Linked DNA regions of Homo sapiens: region 1 is reported to be linked to region 2. The links are microRNA targets in miRTarBase. Many come from high-throughput screens and were not tested one by one. Region 2 holds a microRNA gene; the other region holds the end of a gene's coding sequence.
What was found. Region 2 holds the annotated microRNA hsa-miR-4649-3p (UCUGAGGCCUGCCUCUCCCCA, at 1,550-1,570, shown strand). A microRNA usually pairs through its seed, bases 2 to 8, with sites in the 3' UTR of a target mRNA and lowers its output. Matches are read on the target gene's strand: a 7mer-m8 pairs with bases 2 to 8, a 7mer-A1 pairs with bases 2 to 7 and ends in A, and an 8mer does both.

Region 1: miRTarBase lists TFCP2L1 as a target of hsa-miR-4649-3p. The part of its 3' UTR that is shown has no 7-base or 8-base seed match.

Annotation. Positions count from the first base shown.
Region 1 is chr2:121,221,732-121,224,824 of GRCh38, forward strand. It overlaps TFCP2L1 (transcription factor CP2 like 1), which reads right to left. Exons shown (of 15, transcript NM_014553.3): 15 at 1-2,656. The coding sequence ends at 2,610. Among named protein-coding and RNA genes, the nearest start is that of TFCP2L1, 62 kb to the right of the region's middle.
Region 2 is chr7:44,109,342-44,112,434 of GRCh38, forward strand. MIR4649 (microRNA 4649) reads left to right here and starts at 1,508; the gene lies at 1,508-1,571. AEBP1 (AE binding protein 1) reads left to right here. Exons shown (of 21, transcript NM_001129.5): 10 at 674-783; 11 at 866-1,005; 12 at 1,384-1,468; 13 at 1,572-1,716; 14 at 1,813-1,898; 15 at 2,166-2,289; 16 at 2,513-2,709; 17 at 2,801-2,980.

The sequences.
Region 1 (3,093 bases), not on the chromosome of region 2:
CAATAGAAAAAAAATACGTATCTTGGAAATCATCAAAGTTAAAAAGTTTTGTGTCTCAAAGGACACCAACAAGAAACTGAAAACAATCCACAGAAGGGGAGAACATTTTTACCAGTCATATACCTGATAAAAGACTGGCGTCTAGAATATACAAATAGCTCACCCAACTCAATAATAAAAAGAAGGCTCATCCCTGGTAGTCTAGTGGTTAGGAAAACAGAAAACTTAAAAAAAAAAAGACAACTCAATTAAAAATAGGCAAAGGACCTGGATAGACCTTTCTCCAAAGAAATACGCATGGCCCGTAAGCACAGGAAAAGACACTCAGCATCAGTTGCCATCAGGGGAATGCAAATCAAAACCACAAGATAGCATTTCATACTCATTAGGATGCTAAAAGCAAAAAGACAGATAATAGCAAGTGTTGATGAGGATGTAGACAAATTGAAACCTGGATACATTGCTGGTGGGAATGTAAAATGGTACAGCTGCTATAGAAAACAGTCTGGCAGTTTCTCAAAAAGTTAAAACACGGAGTTACTGTAAGACCTAGCAATTCCACTCCTATGTATATTGCTAAAAGAAATGAAAACATATGTCCACACAAAATCTTGTAGAAATATGTTCATAGCAGCATCATTCAGAGTAGCCAAAAAGTAAAAACACACAAATGTCCATCAACTGATGAATCAATAAACAAATGTGGTCTATCTATACAATGAAGTATTATTCAGCAATACAAAAGAATGAAGTACTGATACATCCTCAACTTGGACGGCCCTAGAAAACATTCAGTGGAAGAAGCCAGTCACAAAAGAGATATCACATGATTCCAGATATATGAAATGTCCAGAGTAGGTTAATCTTACATAGAAAGTAGATTCATGGCTGCCTTGGACTGCAGGAGTTAGGAAAGCAGGAGTGACAGACCAAGGGTACGGGGTTTTACTGGGGGTGATGAAAATGTACCAACGTTGACTGTAATTCTGTGAATTGATGGTGGTTCTGTGAATACAATTGGACACTAGCAATGGGTAAACTGAATGGCATGTGAATGACATCTCAATAAAGCTGTTAGTTAACCCACTCCCCGCTTCTCCTCTAAAGAAGGAAGAGGAATCAGGAGCCTGTCCTCACTCTGTTCTGTAGGAATGCCACGGCTATTACCCAACATAATGACTAACAGAGCCCCTTTTATTCCGAGATGTCCTGGTTTATATGATAAATTTATATCGCTACCCTATCACTATGTGCTACCATGCAGGTGACTTTGCCCCTCTGAGCCTTGGTTTCCTCATCTATAAAACAAGTTCTCCCCATTGTAGACCCTGTTTTATTCTGGTAGTCCTTCAGTCTAGCACTTCATTCCACAGAAGCTCCATTTAGAAGCTATGACATCCCATTCAGGTGGTCAGAGGGTTCCCCATGAACCTAAATTAACCAAGAGCTGAAGCCCTGGGCCAGTAGAGATCACTGGATCCCAGGAACCAGAGGCAAGACAAAGACGAATTTCTGAGTCTACCACAGTTACTGACACTCAAATTTCCCGATAGTTAGGCCATTAAGAAAGATGATGCACCCATTCTGATGCAGGCAAAATATCCTAAACATAGCCTCTACAAACAAAGATAAACATGTAAGTGAGGGGCACTCAGAGAAAACACATCGCTCCTGTGGCAAGTTTAGCAGCGGTTCAACAAGGTCTTCTCTAACTTTCTATAAGTCCATCCAAGAGGGCCTGGTATTGTGGTGGTCAAGGTCATCTGATGACACCTAGGAATGGAATACTCATTCCTAATCCTCCTTACCCGTGATTGCCAGGAAATAAAATAGTCTTTTTCTATTACCATCCCCCTAACCTCCCCACAAAGGGCCTCAGAACTAATGTCTCTGAGAAAGGCCGTGCACATACATTGTGGCATCTACCATGCCAATGCGCCAGTGCAGAGACAGGAGCACATCTTTGGGTTCCGCAGCAGCAGATCCTTAGAAACAACGTAGAGAAGAAAGAGGTAGAAGGCACAGAATAGCCCCACTCCCATCAATTCATCCAAGAACAGGAAAGGCGGATGCTCACCAGGGTCACTGAGAAGGGAAGCAAACCTGAAACAGGAGAATGAGGGCAAACTGCTCCCATCAAGTCGGCAGTGCTGGCCATGCAGCCAACTCCCAGAGGAGGAGGTAAAGGTACCAGCTTCCAGGGTGAAGCAGAGCTTTCTCTGGAGGCAGGAGAGTGGTCAGAAGGGACCAATACAGGCAGCACCAAGATACCCAATCAGCTTCCAACTAAGGGATGAGGGATTTCAGAGCAGACGTCTCCACTGTTTGCCCTTTTAGAACGTCAGGGTTGGACCAATAGAAAAGAACAAGGAACCATTCAAAATCTGGAGGCCAAGAGGAAGGGAGAAAGGAGCCACTGGCTTTCTGTACACCGTACTTGGTGTCCACAGGCTTCTGCTGGTTGGTGCTCTGTAGCTTTCACAGACTGGGCAGGGTCCCTCCTGGCCTCAGCTTGCCTGGTGAGGCCACAGCTTACAGTGGGGCAATGTCTACATCCACGGGGATCCACAGGGCTGGGAGCTGGAGACAGGTATGAGGTCCACTGCTGCTCAGAGTCCACATTTCAGGATGATGTGGTAGCCATCATTGCTCTCAGCTGCAAGAGAGAAACACTGGGTGTATTTCACAGGAAAAAAGGTGCAGTGCCACAGTATTGGGGAGTCCCAAAAGGCACGCTGTTAGGGTATCAGCAAAGACCACCAAAATAGGGCTGCATACAGCAAAGCGTGCTGGCAGAAGCAGGGATCTCACATGCCCTGACATCTGCCTCGTTTAGTGTCTTTTTAACAATAGGTCTTTCTACCATAGCCCCAGGCCCAAGGATGAAAACCTACGTTCCAAGGAGGATTTGGACAACTGTGGTTCTCAGGGATATTATGGCCCCCAAGGCCCCAAAGACACTTGGTGGTGGCTGGGCGTGGTGGCTCACGCCTGTAATCCCAGCACTTTGGGAGGCCAAGGCAGGCGGATCTCGAGGTCAGGAGATCAAGACCATCCTGGCTAACACAGTGAAACCCCGTCTCTACTAAAAAA
Region 2 (3,093 bases):
GTAAGTGGGGGGCACAAGGGGGTGAGGGTGGGGGCCACAGGATGGGGGTGCTGGGACAAGTGACTGGCCCAATGTCACAAACAGGACCCAGGTCCCCGGAACCCTTTCCTACTCAGATTCTTGGGACCCAGAAGGGAGGGGCCCCGGGAGCCCAGGATAGCCTCGCTTGGCTGCCCCAGCCCTGGACCCCAGGCTGGCCTGCTTCAGGAGGGTGGCAGCTCCCCAGGGCCCCTAGTGGCTGGGCGTGGTAGGGGGAGGACCTGGGGCCTTGGTGGGGAGTGAGGACCTCAGGTACCTTCACAGGTATCCCTGCAGGGCCATTGTGCAGACGGTCCCCATCTGGATGACATCTGTGGCTGCGCCCTGGGGGAGCTCTACCTGTGATTTCACGTGTGTCCCCTGAGAGCTGGGCATGGTCAGCCCGTTCTCCAGATGGGGCAGCTGAGGCCCAGGGAGGGGAAGCACAGGCTGGGATTGGAAACAGCTCCTGGCCTGGCTTTGAGTCGATTCCAGGTGGGCTGGTGCAGGGCACCAGGGAGCCACCAGCTGACCAGAGCTGCCCTCTGACTGTGCCCCCGATGTGCCGGGAGTGGGCTCTGGGCTCCTTGGTTCTGGGTTTGGTGGAGGGAAGGATGGAGCTAGTGAGCCACCATTCTGGGGTACGCGTCCTCAGAGTGTCCCCCCATTGGGATGGAGTCACACCGTATTGAGGACAACCAGATCCGAGCCTCCTCCATGCTGCGCCACGGCCTGGGGGCACAGCGCGGCCGGCTCAACATGCAGGTGGGCATTGGGATGGGCCCATCTCCCAACTGGGATAAGGGACTCCTCCGCCCATGCTCAGCCTCCCCTGCCCCCTGGACAGACCGGTGCCACTGAGGACGACTACTATGATGGTGCGTGGTGTGCCGAGGACGATGCCAGGACCCAGTGGATAGAGGTGGACACCAGGAGGACTACCCGGTTCACAGGCGTCATCACCCAGGGCAGAGACTCCAGCATCCAGTGCGTGGCCAGGCTCATGGATAGTTGGCAGAGGGGAGTGGCTACATAGGCATGGCTCTGTGTCCCATTAAGGAGATTCCAGTGGGCCCTTCTTTGGCCCAGCCAAAGAAGGCCAAAAAGATCAGTGAGGGACTCACCCTGCCCATCCCCACTCCTCAGCCTGGTCAGTCAGCCCCTGTGTCCTGATAGCACATGAGTTTAGGGACAGATCACCTGCCCATGGCTATGTGACGGGCATAGGACCCAGGCTCAACACCTGGGCCGTGCAGCACCACCCTGCTAGCTCTTAAATTCTTGGGGCTCGGAAGAGGGAGGCTCAGGCCACCTGAGGGCCTGGGAGGGGGAAGACCCTTGCTCTGACCACTGTCCACTCCACAGTGACGATTTTGTGACCACCTTCTTCGTGGGCTTCAGCAATGACAGCCAGACATGGGTGATGTACACCAACGGCTATGAGGAAATGGTGGGCACCATGCCCAGGCTCTTGGCTCTGCTCCCATTGTCTGGGCGAGGGGTGGGCTCTCAGAGGGGCTGGCAGTACTGCTCTGAGGCCTGCCTCTCCCCAGACCTTTCATGGGAACGTGGACAAGGACACACCCGTGCTGAGTGAGCTCCCAGAGCCGGTGGTGGCTCGTTTCATCCGCATCTACCCACTCACCTGGAATGGCAGCCTGTGCATGCGCCTGGAGGTGCTGGGGTGCTCTGTGGCCCGTGAGTGTGGAGGGCTGGCAGGGGCTCTGAGTGGAGGTGGGGTGCTAGGGTGGGCCAGCCGGCACCCAGCTAAAGACAACCCCGCCTCCCTTGCAGCTGTCTACAGCTACTACGCACAGAATGAGGTGGTGGCCACCGATGACCTGGATTTCCGGCACCACAGCTACAAGGACATGCGCCAGGTTGGGAGCATATATCCTGGGGCTGGGGGTGGGACCTGTCTGTGGCTGACGGGAGTGTGTGCCTGGTGCTTCTGTCACTGGGCCCAGTCCCTACTGGTTCCAGGGATGCTGGCTGTCCCTCACCTTAGGAAGGAGGCCAGTACCTGGGGGCTGCGTGAAGGGGTCATGCCCGTCCCTCGCCATAGAGCAGGCCCTGGAAGTGGAAGGGGCATGGTCAGCGGGGGACGGATTGCATGATTGATTCCACGTCCTCCCCCTCTGCCCCAGCTCATGAAGGTGGTGAACGAGGAGTGCCCCACCATCACCCGCACTTACAGCCTGGGCAAGAGCTCACGAGGCCTCAAGATCTATGCCATGGAGATCTCAGACAACCCTGGGGAGCATGAACTGGGTGAGGGTCTGTGGGGGCCAGCAGCTGGCCTCTGCTGCTGATGTGCAGAGCTCACTGCCTCCCGCCTGTTCCGGAGCCTCTCTGGGGATTCTGGCTTGTCTTACAGGGCCCTAGGAGCCCCAGCTGTCCCCCAGACCCTCGGGTATGAGGTGGGTCTGGGTCCTTCCTCAGCTGCCCTGGGCCTCGGGAGACTGAGTGCTCACTGAGGCTCCCGCCCTTGCAGGGGAGCCCGAGTTCCGCTACACTGCTGGGATCCATGGCAACGAGGTGCTGGGCCGAGAGCTGTTGCTGCTGCTCATGCAGTACCTGTGCCGAGAGTACCGCGATGGGAACCCACGTGTGCGCAGCCTGGTGCAGGACACACGCATCCACCTGGTGCCCTCACTGAACCCTGATGGCTACGAGGTGGCAGCGCAGATGGTGGGTTGAAGGGTGAGGCTGGCCAGGGTCCAGGCAGCTGGGGGTTGTGGGGGTGTGGGTAGCCGATGCCTACCCTGCTGGCTCCCCACAGGGCTCAGAGTTTGGGAACTGGGCGCTGGGACTGTGGACTGAGGAGGGCTTTGACATCTTTGAAGATTTCCCGGATCTCAACTCTGTGCTCTGGGGAGCTGAGGAGAGGAAATGGGTCCCCTACCGGGTCCCCAACAATAACTTGCCCATCCCTGAACGCTACCTTTCGCCAGATGCCACGGTGAGGCTACAGCCTGGCTGAAAGGGCAGGAGGGAGCAGCTGGACCCTGGGGTCCTGGTGTTCTGGGCTTGGGGGTGGGGCTGACGGTGCCTGAACTCCAGACGCTGAGGCTC